Homo sapiens: one gene and its partners. The protein of the gene in region 3 purifies or fractionates together with the protein of the main gene of each other region. This does not show direct contact. Each region holds a gene or a part of one and is shown on either strand. Other genes may lie near its edges.

Region 1 (5,523 bases), on a different chromosome or scaffold from region 3:
TCTTTATTGCAATATTTGCTTTTTGCAGTGGTCTGGAACCAAACTTGGAGTATCTCTGAGACATGCCTATATTTCCTTGATTTCTAATGTGAATATGATACATGTGAAAAATGAACCTAATAAGCAATTCAAACTATGTAGATAATAAATCTAAAAACCATGTACACTGATATATTCTTTGACATATCCTATACAGAACACGGCTTAACAAAGAATATGTAATGCACACACATGCTAAATACCTTTTATCTTGCAGATATATTTAGCTCTCTACATAAGAAATGCCCTCGGAAAACATTCATACATATTTTAAAAGGAGAACTTTCCCGCTTTACACAGCAGCATTTTATAATAAAATACTGATGCAATTGTTTCAGGATTCAAAAATACTTATTTCATTACAACCCTGTTTTTCCCCCCCGAAAAAAAGAGTTGAAGAATAACTTTGATAGAATCTTAAGCAGGAAAAAAACCTGACAAACCCAATAAACAAAACATGAACTACCCAACTGTTTTACCAATGCTTTAATATAAATTTTGCAAAGGAGGAAGGGCTCAACAAAATATACGCCCTGCATAAGTCAGTGAAGGTCCAAATTTTCAACCCAATTAACTCAGGGTCTGTTTTAGTTTTGAAAAGATCAAAACCTTAAAAAAAAAATCTAAGCTGGCTGAATTTTTACAAGGCAGGAATGAAATACTGAAGAGAGACATCTTCTTGAACCAAAACAAGCTGAAGAAGAGTATTGTCCCAAATATTGCACAGGGCCGTCGTAGGATGTATTTGCTGTCCCTCCAAAAACTGCAGAAGCTTCCGATTGTCCACCCGCACTTGCACCATGCTCTCCAGGTCTCTGTTTTCAGGCACACCCACAGCCGACTGGGGAGGGTTTCCAAGATTTTTAAAATAACTTTGAATGGACACCACCTCCGTCTCTATACTCAGGGTCATCCTGCCACTGAGGTTTGCTTCCACCAGCACGTGACTGCCCACGTTCGCCATCCTCTCCACGATGCTCCTCAGCGTCCTCCAGCGCGGCAGGCGGATGCTCGCGTCGGAGGCGCGCAGGCTGGGCGGCAGGCAGTCCCGCCACACTCTCCTGGGAAGCACCCGCACGGGCAGATCGTGCACCACGCTGCGAGCGCGGCCCAGGGACGAGACCAGCTCCACCGCCACCGTGAGGGAGGGGCGGCGCTTGTGGGTCAGCTGCAGCTTCAGGGAGGACGCGCCCGCTGCGCTTCTCGCCGCCCGGGACAGGTGCTCCGCCGTCAGCTCCAGGTGGATCTCATCGAGATCTTCCGAGACACCTTCCATGCGAAACTGCTGGAAGGCCCCCTGCCGCACCTCGCACCACAGCCTGGCCTCGTGGAGGCCGCCGGAACCCGCGGGGCCGAAGCACAGGCTGTCAGGGCGCACGCGGAGCACGCAGACCTTCGCTAGCCTCGCGACGGTGCCGCTGACGTGAATGAACAGCTCTAGACAGCCTTTGCCGGTGATCTTGGCGCGAAACTTCATGATGCCACAGGGAAGGCAGCTGGGGGCCTCTGAGGGGGATTCCGCGTGCCACAAGCCCTTCCGGTCCGCTGGGGTCCGTGGCGCTGCCCTCCCCGCCCTCCCTCCGGCCCCCCAGCTAGGCAGGCACTCGGGTTCCCGGTTGCGGTTGCGGGTTCTGTTGTGGGTTCCGCAGCCCTAGGCCTGGAGCCACGGAAGGGCCTCCCAACGCCCGTTCTCACCTTCCCTCCAGCCCTCTCACAAAATGCTTCCGTTTCCACTCCGGTTATAAGAAGAGTAGGCATTCCACTGCTGAAACTTCTTAGTATTCTAAACACAATGAAGACAAAATCATCACTCAGATAAAGAACCACTTTTAATCTCTTTGGTATATACACTGATTCCATCTTCATCAATCGGCATATAAGAAGATATAGTTCCACGTGTCTTATGAAATCATAGCATACCAGGCATACATTTTACAACCTCATCTTCACACTTAAATATGTAACAGGCACCTTTCCATGCTGGTGAAACAAATCTACACCATCTTCATGGCTGCTCACTTTTCCAGTGTATGGAGTTATAACACAAATGACATTTGGATGATTTCCAATTTTTTGCTATTATGAACACAATGAATATTTTTGTACAAAATAGTTTTGCCCATTTACCCAACTATTTCCTTGCATTAAATTCAGAAGTGAAGTGCTGGTCAATGAATGCACTTTTAAAATCCTAATAAATATTCTCAGACTGGCCTGCAGAAAGCTACATGAACACTCTAGCCCACCAGCAACACTGGGTAGTAGCAATCTGTTTTACCTGTAGCACTCTGGCAGGCAAAAAAAAAAAAAAAAAATTCAACTTGCACTGTGTGTGAATTCCATCTTATGCCCTTTGCATCTTTTTACTGAGTTTATTTTTCTTGATTTTAAGATATCTAGCAAGAACATTAACCCTCTGTCCATTACATGTACTGTAAATATCTTCCCCAGTTTATCATGTGACTTTTCACACTGTTTTTGGTATTCTTTGCCCTTGGGAAATACTGAGTATTTTCATGTCAAACCTATTGACCTTTTCTCTACTACTTCTAGGGTCATGCTTTCAAAGTCCTGTTTCTGGTACTTTAATGTTATCTGTTTTTATGACTTAGTTGTTTGACTCAGTTGAAATCTTTTTTGGAGTACCGAATGCCTAGCTGATACACATAATTCACTAAACAATCCACTTCTCCACTAACCTGAAATGTCAATTTTGTTTTAGACAAAAATTCTCATTTTTGCTTGAATGTTTCCTGGCCCTCTCTATATTTTCTCCCACTGCCCTATCTTGAACCTGTACCAGTGATTTAATTTCTGTATTATATTTCAATATCGAATAGGACAATCTTTCAGAACTTCTCTCATTCTCTCACAGATACTGCTCCAGATGAATTCTAAAATATTTTGTCAGAGTCTAAAAATAATCTTCCTGGAATTCTGATGGGAATTATCACCAGCCTGATATAGTACATACTTAGACTTCTTTGTTTGCCGTCTAGCTCTAACCACAATGATGTAAGTTAGAGGAGTTCTTATCTGTTCCATACACTGCTGTACACCCAGCATTTAGAACAGTATTTGCCATGCAACTGGTGTTCAACACAAATTTTTAAATGAATGTATGAAATGTATAAATTTCAAGATAATTTCAGGATATTTAAAATATATATATATATTTTATATATATATATATATATATTTTTTTTTTTTTTAGACGAAGTCTTGCTTTTGTCGCCCAGGCTAGAGTGCAATGGCGTGATCTCGGCTCACTGCGACCTCTACCTCTCAGGTTCAAGCGATTCTCTTGCCTCAGCCTCCCGAGTAGCTGGGATTACAGGCGCCTGCCACCATGCCCAGCTAATTTTTGTATTTTTAGTAAAGACGAGGTTTCACCATGTTGGCCAGGCTGGTCTCGAACTCCTGATCTCAGGTAATCTGCCCACCTTGGCCTCTCAAAGTGCTGGGATTATAGGCGTGAGCCACTGCGCCCAGCCAAGATATTTAAAATATTTACATTAAATCCTCCCACTTATTCAAACCATTTTTTATGACTGTCAATGAATTATTCAGTTCTGTTCTTAGGGAGTTCACATAATATACAGTATCTTGAAGTCAGTCAAGTCACTGAGCTCTCCTGAAATCATTTTTCAATTGACCTTTTATGTCTCTAATGTAGAAAATCTTACTATCTTCATGTACTGTAATTATGGCTTTTACTCTTCAAAGTTTATGTCATTTATTTAACTGACATTGCGTTTGCTGTAATTTTCAAAACACTGCTGAATAACAGTGGTGCCAGAAAGCATCTTTGTCTTATTTGTAACTAATGACGAATCCTCTAGAGCAGTGTTTCCCAAACTGTCATTAGCGCCCCCAAGAGTCTTTTTAGGTGTTTTCCCTAACTGCCCTCCATGGAATTTTAGATCACAGGTCCAGACAGAGCAGCATGCGAAGGCTCGCATTGTGAATTTTAGCCCCAGATAGACTGCAAGAACAAACCAGCAATCTCAGACCCTCTGAAGGAAGTAAACTGCTCTTGCAGGACCTGGGAGACACTCCAAATACTGTGAGTGCCCCAACTGTGGAAGTGGGAAAAGGAGCCCTTCCTCTCCCGAACACACACTCCCACTGGAGAAGCTGAAGGTCTGTTTGCGGGAGAAGTTTCCGACTTTACCTGGAGCTGAGTCAATCTGGAGGGGTGAGCGAAACACAGGGGTAGAGGCAGCAGAAAAGCCCTGGGAGCTCACTGTGTCCCCTTGCAGGCCATTCCTGCCTGGCACCACAGGGATCCATCTGGAAGGTGGCCTGAGGAGCAGGGGGTACAACTCCACAGGGAGAAGGAAATCTCTAACTGAACTTTGTAACAATTTCAAGGGACTGAGAAGCCTCCTGGCCAGAACTTGGGAGAGGACGCAAATCTGGTGTGCAGACTCCACAGGCGGGGACAGAACCCAGCCTTTTTAGTTCGCAGCTGGGAGGCAGGTAGCCTGGGGCAGATTTTCAAGCCGTCTTGCCACTCAGGGCTGTTGGGGGGGGGACACGGGGGGCACGGTGGTTGTGAGACTGGCCCTTCAGTTTTGCGTGGGAGCTGGGTGAGGCCTGTGACTGCAGACTTTCCCCCACTTCCCTGACAACCTGCATGACTCAGCAGAGACAGCCATAATCCCCCTAGGTACAGAACTCCACCCCCATCCCCCAAGACCCACCCATCCCCCCCAACCCGATGGTCCTTCCCTACCCAACCTGGTAGTGGAAGACAAAGGACATATAATCTTGGGAGTTCTAGGGCCCCGCCCACTGCCAGTCCCTCTCCACACTACTACAGCTGATGCTTTCTGGAAAGCACCACCTCCTGGCAAAAGGCCAACTAGCACCAAACTAGAGCATTAAACCACCAAAGCTAAGGACCCTCCCTCAGGGAGTCCATTGCACCCTCCGCCACCTCCACTGGAACAGGCGCTGATATTCACATTCACGGCTGAGAGACCATAGATGGTTCACATCACAGGACTCTGTGCAGGCAACCCCCAGTACCAGCACAGAGCTGGGTAGACTCGCTGGGTGCTAGACCCAGAAGAGAGACAACAATCTTGCAGTCTGGCTCACAGGAAGCCACATCCACAGGAAGATGGGGAGAGCACTACATCAAGGGAACACTTTGTGGGACAAAAGAATCTGAACAACAGCTTTCAGCCCTAGACCTTCCCTCTGACAAGGCTACCCAAATGAGAAGGAACCAGAAAACCAACCCCGGTAATATGACAAAACAAGGCTCTTCAACACCCCCGAAAAAATCACACTAGTTCACCAGCTATGGATCTAAACCATGAAGGAATCCCTGATTTACCTGAAAAAAAAATTCAGGAGGTTAGTTATTAAGCTAATCAAGGAGGGATCAGGGAAAGGCGGAGCCCAATGCAAGGAAATCAAATAAACAATACAAAAAGTAAAGGGAGAAATATTCAAGGAAATAGATAGCTTAAA
Region 2 (7,037 bases), on a different chromosome or scaffold from region 3:
GACTACAGATGCGTGCCACCATGCCCGGCTAATTTTTGTATTTTTAGTACAGACGGGGTTTCACTGTATTGGCCAGGCTAGTCTCAAACTCCTGACCTCGTGATCTGCCCGCCTTGGCCTCCCAAAGTGCTGGGATTACAGGCGTAAGCCACCGCACCCAGCCAACAGACTTCCATTTTAAACATGGCTTAGATCATTCTGATACCCTGCCAAATTTCTCTAAAAAAGACTCTGCCCATATCTGGAACAACTGCAGGATAAGATCAAAGTGGTTATTGGTTCCTCCTGTGTTCTCTGTCCTCGACAGTAGTCAATAATCAAAAGCTACCAGGATAATCACTCCAGGGAGGCTCCCCACAATGTAAAGGATTACCTCTGTTGGTTTCAGGTTCAAGTATCACAAAGGAATCTTCATCAGCACCTAGCCGTGGTTTAATGGAAACATCTACTCCCAGTTGCTTAAGTCTATCCAGAGTAAACCGTCTCACTTTTTCAGGTGGCCCAACTGCTGATGATTTATTTTGCTGCTCAGGCTCTTCCACTTTCTCATCTGTTTCTTCTGGATTTTGGGGGCCTTCACCCTCCAGGGCATGAGGTTCAAATGCTACAAGCCCTCCAACCTGACATTCCTCACTGTGATTGTTCCCGAGGAAGTTGGATTCCTGTTGCAACACTGAGCTGTCCCCAGGTGAAGGTCTAATGTCACTCTGCTTCTGTTTCTCCTGAATTTCTAGCTCTTCATTTTTTACCAAATCCTTCCTGCAAGACTCATCTGATCCAGTAATGATCTGGGTTTCCTTTGAAACTACAGGGAGTGCATTAGTTTCCACTTCATTTTCTGCACCTGTTGTCTGCTCAGAACCTTTACTATGGTGATCACTGTTCATTTCAGTAGTATTTGCAGTGTCTATGATTTCTTTGTGATGGCTTGACTGATATTTAGATGACCTAGAGAAGAGAAATTGAGCTGGAGTTGAAAATTATCCTAAATGTGAAACATTCTCATCCCTTAGTATATATCAGTTAAATCAGTTTTAAGGGAGTGAGAAATCTGAACTTTTTATGCCAGATGTTTGCTACAAAACTAAATGTTCATGAAAATTATAATAAGGAAAGAGGGTTCTTACTTCAATAGTGCCATGGCATTTCCGTGGCAAGTGGGCCGGGGTTTACGTTTGAAGAAATCATGAATGGTTTTATTCTCAGGCATATGATATGGAAGGTTCAGTGCAGACTCTATAAAATGGAATAAAACAAGCAAATATATATACTGTATATTCTGAAATGTCACTTCATATTCAGTTAACTAAACATAATAACCAAAGCCATCACTAGAAATAGAAAACTCCCCTTTAACAAAGGCAGAGGAGCTAAGTACAAAAAAGCTCCCTGAAGACCAGTGGCTTTTAAACCTAGATGTGAAATCAAAATGATCCAGGAAGTTTTTTAGAAATACAGATTCTTGGATCCCATTTCGAATCTACTGAATCAGAATCTCTGTGGGACCTAAACATTTATATACAGTAGTCCCCGCTTATCCAGACAGACACATTCCAAGACCTGCAGTGGATGCCTGAAACTGCAGATGGTACTAAACCATGCAGTGTTTTTTTGATCTGATAACTGAGAGGGCTACTAACGGACTAACAGGCAGGTAATGTATACAGCGTGATACTCTGGACAAAGGGATGATATTTTTAAGTTCCATGGACCATGGCTGACACAGGTAACCAAAACTGCAAATAGGGAGGGATTACTACCTCTCCAAAGAATCCTGACACAATCAGTCCATAGACAACCATTAAAAAATTTCCTCCTTACCTGCACTACAGTTCTGAAAATTTCTTCAGTTTATACTAATGTTCCAAGGGCTTTAGAACAATGGCCTTTCACCAAGATCAATTCTAAACTTAATATTATAACCTGAGTTCACATTAGAAGTGTTAAAAAAATAAAAGTCCCCAACATCCAAGTTGAGCTTACAAAGAAATGTTGTGATTTTGCCTCAAAGTTTACTGGGTTGCATTACCTCGAATAAGGCGCTGAGTCTCACTATGCAGTTGTTTTAATGCTTCTTTACTTAATCTGGCTGCCTTTCTTTCCTTAAAGAAAACAAGAAGTGAGACTACATTAATTATATGAATATCCAGAAAGATAGATATTCATCACTCAAGAGTTTGCTCTCTCCAAGAAAAGAGGAAAGGAAATAGTAAGCATGAGTAAGCCCAAATGCAGTATAAACTCAAGGAATTCATTTATTCCCAAGTCTCAGAGAATTTGTTCAATCCAATCCATATTTTGTTCCTACTATGTACAAAGCAATATGATGGGTAACAGAAAAATATGATAGACAAAATAAAATATTTATCCCTAAGAAATCTATAATCTCCTGTGTAAAGAGATCAGTGTGACTAATATACAGGGCTCTACCTCACCTTCCTCGTGGTTCCTTTTGATAACTCACTTCCTTCCTCAAATGAATGGACCCCACTCTCCAAAGATGGTTCTTTTTTCTAAAAGAAATGGCAGGTTGATTAGGACAAAAACGAAATTCAAATAAGAGGATGCTTTAGCTGAAGACTACTTTTGTAGTCCAACACCACATCATGCTACATTAATAAATCAATAATCATCAACTAGAAATTATTAAACACACAGCATCCTATTATGCTTAGAAAACAGATACCTCAGATGGAGTCTGGACCCTTATTTCTTTTACCTCTGCTTACATCTTTCCCTAAAGAGGGATAATAACTCGCAGGAAGCTAAAAAAAAATCTTAGGAAGAAAAATTATGCTTCCAAACACTCGGGACAACAATGTTTTGACTGATGCCTCTCTTTGATACCCTTCCTGAAACCCTATAGGGTTCATTTCTCAAAGGCTATAGGATTGCAAAATTTACATCTCTTCCCTATTATTTACCTGCATCTTACTACACCATCAAATATCTTAGTGGTTTTTTTTTTCAGCATTCCTAAAAGGGTAATAACAAAACACTAGTTTCCAAAGAAGTTAGCATGTCTATCACTTGTACTGCAAGTCTCCAAAATTAACAGCTGAAACACTTAAGTCAACTGACACAAGTTTTTCTTCAGTTAAAAAAAAAATTAAGGTTCCAACAGTAAATTAAAAATATAGCAAAGGTCAGAAGCAGTTGATTAACTCTTATTGCAATCATGCTTTACTTGCCTTGTGCTTTTTTACTTTGTTTTTTACAGCTGCTCTTATTGATTCTAATGACTCTTCATCTTCCAATGGAGAGTTATTTTCATCCTCCAACCCAGTTTCAAAAAGGTCTTTATCCACAAGAAGACAGCCACTGTCATTAAATGGCTGTTCTACATCATCTTCCTAAGTAATACATAAACAAAAAGCATAATCCAATCATTTAAAAATCCAGTATTTCACAACATCATATGGCAATTTGGATCAGGCCAGAAAAAGCCCATGTTTCATCAACAGACAAGCATATAAAATCTAGAACATTCTTACTGGTTTCTAACTCACATGTATCCTTTGAAGTCCAAGTTGTGATTTTATGCAACTGTCTAAAACTAACTTAATAAACAGTAAATATTTTTTTGAAGTAAAATACTTGTTAAGCAACTAGTTTATAAATTTGAGGATGGTTTTTCTAGTTAGCAAACAAGACTACTGACTGATAGATGCATAAAAAAGCCTTCTTTCAGTTAATTTTCATCAGCTCAGAGACAGCAAAGAATTACTCCATGTGCTCATAAAGAAAATCAGAAACCCATTTATTTGGAAATGTCCTCTGCATACCCAAAATAGAATAAGACCAATAAGTTTTGTTTTTTTGGTTTTTGTTTTTTTTTTTTTTGAGACAGGGTCTCACTCTGTCATCCAGGCTGGAATGCAGTGGTACAATTACAGCTTCATTGCAGCCTCGACTTCCTGGGCTCAAGTGATTCTCCCACCTCACCCTCCCAAGTAGTTGGGACTACAGCTGGGACTACGGCCACCACACCCAACTAATTTTTAAATTTTTTGTAGAGATGGGATCTCACTCTGTTGCCTAGGCTGTTCTCGAACTCCTGGGCTTAAGTGACCCTCTGGCCTCAGCCTCCCAAAGTGCTGGGATTAGACGTATGCACCACTGCACCTGGCCAAGACCAGTTAGTTTTAAATCACATACCTATTGAGAATAATTCTCAACACAAAATAGTCAATTCAAAGCAATAGTCAGAGAGCAGAAACAACCTCAAGTACTAACAGCAACCTTTTCTAAAATGTTAACCTACCCAAGCAATAGCAAATTATTCTTTAAAATGTACCTGGTTTTTTGTTTCCTTCTTTTTTAGCTGTCTAATTTTTTCCATTTTTCTCTCCTCTTTCTCAAGTCTTCTTTTTGATTTTACTTTTGCTTTTCCTGCAGTTCCTTCTTTATCATGTATGTGCTTTTTGGAACTCTTTCTGTCAGTGGTAAAGTCTGTAGAGTTTCCAGACTGAAGACTCAGCTCTAAGCAAGGTTTCACTTGCGCTTCAAGATTTTCCTGATACAAAGACTTTTCCATGTAACTTTCATCACTGTCTGCCACAGTTTTGTAAATCCTTTTGATTTTTGTATTTTTCCCAGCATATAAATTCTCTTTATTTTCCTCCTCGGCACTGTCATAGGTAGTTTTCTCTGGAGAGGCATTTGTGTCCTCTGTTTCGGAATCACTGTCTTGTAGAACCTTCCTGTTTTTCAACTTCTTACTTACAAATATCTCTTCATCTGAATCTGGAGGAAACAATTTTCTTTTAATTATACCATCATTTGATCTTCCTCCTAGTCCCACTACTCCTCAAAAATATATTTTTATACAAGTGATATATAACATTGTGAAATTACGTGACTACTGTTAAGAACTGATTGTAGCAAAGCAAATCTAAAAATACATTTTGAAAAACATTTTCCCTGGGAAAAATGTCTCTTACTGGGAAATGTAATTTTACGTATATTTACAATGTGTAAAGTTGTTCTAACCTCCGGCAGGTGTTAAAATTCCTTTTATTATAGGATGAATGCAATTAACCAGGCAATATGGTAGCTATTAGACATTCAACAATATAACATAGTTTCAAAAAGGTACAAGCACTGTTATTTTGCTTTTATAATAAAACAAACAATAAGGATGGGGCATTAATAATGTAATAAATCAAGAGAATAATGAAATCAATCCAATCTACTTACAACTGAGGCTCCCGCAACCTATTCCTAAAAATAAAAGTACTATTACAAACCTCCTTCACTCAAGGGTCCAATTGTTTCATAGCTGCCCTGTCCACTATCTGAAGGACTATCTGCTTCCTCTTGTGAAATGACGTTTGGGTCATTGATTTCTAGGTGAACCTAGAAAATGACAATATACTTTATATCAACCAGCAGGTGACCGAAAGCTCCAAGTACATAATGACACACAAATCATCGTGGGATCATCAACCTGAACTAAGGAAAGAACCAAATACAATGGTTCCTTGAAGGGATGACATTTAGAATTACTGGACAACAAACAAACAAAAGTTCATTTTTCACCTTTGAAGGATGCTAACAGAACCAACTCTTTTAGTAACGGTAAAAAAAAAAATGAAAAGAATCAAGCATTTATTATGCCTTTTCTGTGTGAACTGTTCCCCAATATATCCATACAATTGATGAGGGGAAGTTTCTATTTAGAGAAATATCCTAATGAATTAATAAATGATAGAATTAGATTATCACAATTTTATCAACCCTCAATTAAATAACAGACCTAGGCAATTATCATTAATGGCTGCTAACATCACCAAAAGAGAAACAACCAGACATTATGTGCTGCCTAATAGAAGTACCCAATACTAGCCATAAAGTATTCCTGACAGAACAATCAAATTTGAATCCTATCAAGTCTCTAGATCTAACTAGCAAGTTATAGGAAATAGAGGGAATAGGGGAACATGTTGAATAATACCACAGATATGCAATCTAGACGTGGGAAATTCTACAAGTCAAACTGGGTGGTTTCTTTCTCTCTCTCTCTCTTTTTTTTTTTTTTTTTTGAGATAGAATCTCGCTCTGTCACCCAGGCTGGAGTGCAGTGGTGCAATCTCGGCTCACTGCAACCTCTGCCTCCTGGGTTCAAGCGATTCTCCTGCCTCAGCCTCCTGAGTAGCTGGGATTACAGGCGCACATCAACACACCCAGCTAATTTTTTCTATTTTAATAGAGACAAGGTTTCACCATGCTGGCCAGGCCGGTTGCAAACTCCTGACCTCAGGTGATCCGCCCACCTCGGCCTCCCAAAATGCTGGGATTACAGGTATGAGCCACTGCACCCGGCCGGTTTCTTTAACAATATATTGCAAAGAAAAAAAAAAGAGAGGGAGAGAAACCTATAAAGAAAGTTAACACATAAGTGAATGTATATATGTGTGTACGTATGTATATTTCTATATATTTATATATGTATGTATATTTCTATATGCTATGTGTATATTTCTTTTTTTTTGAGATGGAGTTTTGCCGTTGTCGCCCAGGATGGAGCGCAACGGCGCGATCTCGGCTCACCGCAACCTCTGCCTCCCAGGTTCAAGCGATTCTCCTGCCTCAGCCTCCCGAGTAGCTGGGATTACAGGCATGTGTCACCACGTCTGGCTAATTTTGTATTTTTAGTAGAGATGGGGTTTCTCCATGTTAGTCAGGCTGGTCTCCAACTCCTGACCTCAGGTGATCCGCCCGCCTCAGCCTCCCAAAGTGGTGGGATTACAGACGTGAGCCACCACGCCCGGCTATATGTATATTTCCTTTTTTCTTTTTTTGAGACGGAGTTTCGCTCTTATTGCCCAAGCTGGAGTGCAATGGCACGATCTTGGCTCCCTACAACCTCCGCCTCCTGGGTTCAAGCGATTCTCCAGCCTCAGCCTCCCGAGTAGCTGGGATTACAGGTGCGTGCCACCATGCCCGGCTAATTTTTTGTAGAAACGGGGTTTCACAATGTTAGCCAGGCTGGTCTCGAACTTTTGACCTCAGGTGATCCGCCTGCCTCAGCCTCC
Region 3 (3,962 bases):
GGGAAGGGGAGGGCCGTGCCTGCGCTCGGGACTGACTGCTCCCATCCTCGCCCAGGTGGTAGAAGACGGCTACGAGTTCTTTGCCAAGCGGCAGCTGGTGACACTTTTCTCAGCTCCCAACTACTGTGGCGAGTTTGACAATGCTGGCGCCATGATGAGTGTGGACGAGACCCTCATGTGCTCTTTCCAGGTGAGTGTGGGGAAGAAAGGAGCCGCTAGGCCCTGTGGCTCAGCCCCATGAGCCTGACCAACACTGTCTCTTTTAGATCCTCAAGCCCGCCGACAAGAACAAGGGGAAGTACGGGCAGTTCAGTGGCCTGAACCCTGGAGGCCGACCCATCACCCCACCCCGCAATTCCGCCAAAGCCAAGAAATAGCCCCCGCACACCACCCTGTGCCCCAGATGATGGATTGATTGTACAGAAATCATGCTGCCATGCTGGGGGGGGGTCACCCCGACCCCTCAGGCCCACCTGTCACGGGGAACATGGAGCCTTGGTGTATTTTTCTTTTCTTTTTTTAATGAATCAATAGCAGCGTCCAGTCCCCCAGGGCTGCTTCCTGCCTGCACCTGCGGTGACTGTGAGCAGGATCCTGGGGCCGAGGCTGCAGCTCAGGGCAACGGCAGGCCAGGTCGTGGGTCTCCAGCCGTGCTTGGCCTCAGGGCTGGCAGCCGGATCCTGGGGCAACCCATCTGGTCTCTTGAATAAAGGTCAAAGCTGGATTCTCGCCATGGCCTCCGTCTCACATCTAAGACACTGCCTGGCAGCTCTTCTGCACAGAGCCGCTTGGGAGTCTCGGCACCGGGCCCCAGCCAGGGCAACCCTAGCCACACACTCGGGTCCAAGGCTCTTAGAATTCCAAGTCAGCGCCAAAGAGTATCAGGAAAGCAAGGAAAACTTGTCAGCTCCACGGGGGTCCCAGATGCATGCCCAGGACTTCAGGAAGGAACAGGTCATGATTGGCAGAGAAGCTGGATCACCAGGGGCCAGCAGCACCTACTATGACATTTTCCTTAGGAAGGTGAGCCTGAGGGAGACAGGTTTCCAGCCTTGGCCAGCTGGAGTATAGCCTGAGGCTCAATGAGAAATAAGAGGTAGGAACGTCAGTAGTTCAGGGCCAAGTCTGGAAAGTCCTGATTGGCTGGGGGTTGTGGGGAGATAACGGCCCAGGCCCGACCGCTGTGGGACAGCTTTACAGTGACAGCCAGCTGGGGCCTGCGAGAGGCAGTGAAACAGCTCAGCTCCAGCAAGCCCACCTTTCTGATCCCCAGGGCTGAGAGACCCAGTTCTGCCACTGGCTGGGGCTTCGTCTAGTCCAAGGCCTCTGGGTACAGGCTTCAGGTTCTTGGTTCAGCCTTCACCCTCACTGTCTTCCGCCAGCACAGGGCTGGGGCCCTGGGGGGAGCGTACAGGGGCCAGGATGGAGCCGAAGAACAGTGAGCGGAACTGGAAAGAGAACAAGTGAGTTCTGGAGGCTGCTCCCTTCCCTACCTCCCACCCCTGCCTCCACCTCCAGTCCCTACCTTCTTGGGTGGGGGAGTCCCAGGCACTGTACTGGGCTCAGCCTCATCTTCCTCCTCGGAGTGGGGACCGGGGCTCTTGGGGGGCTGGGGGCCAGGTGAAAGGGAAATGGAGGGCAGCACCCGCGAGCCCTCATTGCCTATAGTGGTTTCCATGGCGATCATGTAAGAGTCAATGTCGTCATTGGCAAAGTCGTCCGGGTGGGGTGTGCTGTAGGCAGAATCGGAGTATCAGGGAGGGGACTGGGGGAGCAGAGGCAGGGCCCCACCTTGGAGGGCTCGAAGGGAGCTCTGGGGCCCCCGACCACTGGAGATCTCTTGGTTTTATGACTTCCTGATTTGGCTGGAGAGGAGAGGATGCAGGGGTTAAGTGGTGACTTCCTGGAGGGGGTGGGCCAGGAATCTCTTTGATCAGAATTCAGGTAGGGGCCTGAGGGAGGCATCCCGGGGGCTACCTTAGCTCAGCTAGGAGGGAGGAGCAGCAAGTCTTATGAACTGGGCCACATGGAGCCCAAGCCCCCACCTTCCCAGGGGACAGGAGCTGGAAAGCACAGGAGCCCAGGGACAGGCTGGGCTGGGGGCCAGCCCCAACTTCCTGTGCTGAAAGTGCACTGGGCCATCCTCCCCAGCCCACCTGCCCTTCCAGCCACCTGCTTCCCCCAGCCCAGGCAGCTCCTGCCTCCCAGCAGCCCTTTCCCTCCTTGGCCTGGGAGGAGGCTCAGAGGGGCGGCCTCAGCCAGAGAAGGAAGCTGGCAGGGCCTTGGGGATGCTTCCCTGGGTGGGAGGGGTCTCTGAGTACAGCTAACCGAGAAGGCTGAGTCTGCAGGGCTGGCAGCTGTGAGCACTATAGGGTTAGGGGCTGGGGCCTGATAGAAAGAGAAGGGGCGGGAGAGAACACATTGCGGGGAGGTGCAGAAGCTAGGAGTTGCAGTCTCAGGCTGGAGTGCACAGACATGGAGAGAGGAGGAGTTGGGGGGAGGTGCCCTCACCTGTGAGCCTGGAGCTGAGGCACTGGCTGGTGACGCTCTGGGGAGCCCAGGTCCTGGGAGTGCGAGTCGGTGTCTGAGAGTGTGGCCAAGACAAAGTGGCCGTCCAGCAAAGAGTCCTTGATGGTGAAGATGGCGGGCCTGGGCAGGGGAGGGGGCCCAAGCTAGGTCATCCCATTCAGCTCCTGCCATCCCAGAGCCCTTCCCTGTCCCAAGGCTGGGAACTACCTGCCTGGAGCATCAAAATGAATGCTAAGATTCAAGTTTGCTGACTCTGCAAAGCTCAGGAGCCCCTGGGAGGAAAGAGGTAGCAGGTGAGGCCCCGGGCTGGGCTGAGCTGGGCAGGGAGGACAGGACGGCGAGCGCCTGGGAGGAACCTCACCCGGAATTCCTTGAGGCAGAAAGTGATGGCCACCCCTTCCTGGGCCTGCAGCTGCTGGAAATCCTCCTCTCCAAGGCACATCTCAGTCACCATGGCTTTGGCAGTGCTGTCTGTTGGGGAAGAACAGGAGTAACCTGGGCCCCGCCCCTCTCCCACCTGCCACTCTGCTGTCCCAGGCCACGTCCAGCCCCCTCACCTGCCTCCTCCTCGTGGTAGCTGCGCAGGATGACCCTGCGGCCACGGCCAATGCCCAGCGTCACTTCAGCCAGTGCAGGAGAGAAGGGCAGAACAGCCTCCCCCAGAACCCTGTGAACAGGGTGGAGCATTACCCGAAATGCCTGGCCCTGCCCAGGGCTTTGCTCTCGGAGGACCTGAGGTGGGGGTGACACATGCACACGCACGGATGTGCGCAGGCCTAGCGCACCGTGGATGAGGCCCAGAGAAGGTGGCAGGGAGGGGACTGGTTGCAGTGGTTGCTCAAACCTGGCAGGCGGCACCTGACCATGCAGACCAGGGAGAGGGCCCAGAGGCAGGACGTGGCACTCAGGCCACCCTACAAACCCGGCCTTCAGAAAGAGCCCTGAAATCCTTATCCTCTAAGGATACCCATTGACATACAGATGAAATCACATCTGGAAATTGTTTCAAGTCAAGTGGGGACGGGAGCTGCGTCTGCTTTTACATATATTTGAAATTATTCATGAGACAGAGTGCTTGCTTCGGCAGCACATACACTAAAACTGAAGCATGCAAAAGATGAGCAAGGCCCCTGCGCAAGGATTTAAAAAAAAACAGTGGCTCATGCCTGTAATCCCAGCACTTTGGGAGGCCGAAGCAGTGGATCACTTGAGTTCAGGAGTTCGAGACCAGCTTGGCCAACATGGTGAAACCTCGTCTCTACTAAACATATATAAATTAGCCGGGCGTGGTGGTGCATGCCTGTAATCCCAGCTACTCGGGAGGCTGAGGCAGGAGAATCGCTTGAACCCGGGAGGCAGAGATTGCAGTGAGCCAAGATTGCACCACTGCACTCCAGCCTGGGTGACAGAGCGAGACTCTATCTCAAAACAAA

The links. The genes of interacting proteins can lie anywhere in the genome.
Region 1: the proteins of RAD9A (region 3) and HUS1B purify together in Homo sapiens (co-immunoprecipitation; 4 studies listed by BioGRID and IntAct, with this or other methods). This does not show direct contact.
Region 2: the proteins of RAD9A (region 3) and CLSPN purify together in Homo sapiens (affinity purification with western blotting; 3 studies listed by BioGRID and IntAct, with this or other methods). This does not show direct contact.

Annotation. Positions count from the first base shown.
Region 1 is NC_000006.12:655,429-660,951, forward strand, and holds HUS1B (checkpoint protein HUS1B), read right to left. Parts: upstream 1,673-5,523; 5' UTR 1,517-1,672; coding exon 680-1,516; 3' UTR 511-679; downstream 1-510.
Region 2 is NC_000001.11:35,759,969-35,767,005, forward strand, and holds part of CLSPN (claspin), read right to left. Parts: intron 5,359-7,037; coding exon 5,250-5,358; intron 4,747-5,249; coding exon 4,298-4,746; intron 3,354-4,297; coding exon 3,192-3,353; intron 2,514-3,191; coding exon 2,436-2,513; intron 2,103-2,435; coding exon 2,030-2,102; intron 1,237-2,029; coding exon 1,128-1,236; intron 949-1,127; coding exon 374-948; intron 1-373.
Region 3 is NC_000011.10:67,394,950-67,398,911, reverse strand, and holds the end of RAD9A (cell cycle checkpoint control protein RAD9A), read right to left. Parts: intron 3,197-3,962; coding exon 3,087-3,196; intron 3,001-3,086; coding exon 2,891-3,000; intron 2,802-2,890; coding exon 2,737-2,801; intron 2,650-2,736; coding exon 2,512-2,649; intron 1,734-2,511; coding exon 1,526-1,733; intron 1,449-1,525; coding exon 1,353-1,448; 3' UTR 502-1,352; downstream 1-501. Other genes in the region: PPP1CA (serine/threonine-protein phosphatase PP1-alpha catalytic subunit), read left to right, coding at 56-190, 267-377. UniProt on the Homo sapiens protein: Component of the 9-1-1 cell-cycle checkpoint response complex that plays a major role in DNA repair. The 9-1-1 complex is recruited to DNA lesion upon damage by the RAD17-replication factor C (RFC) clamp loader complex.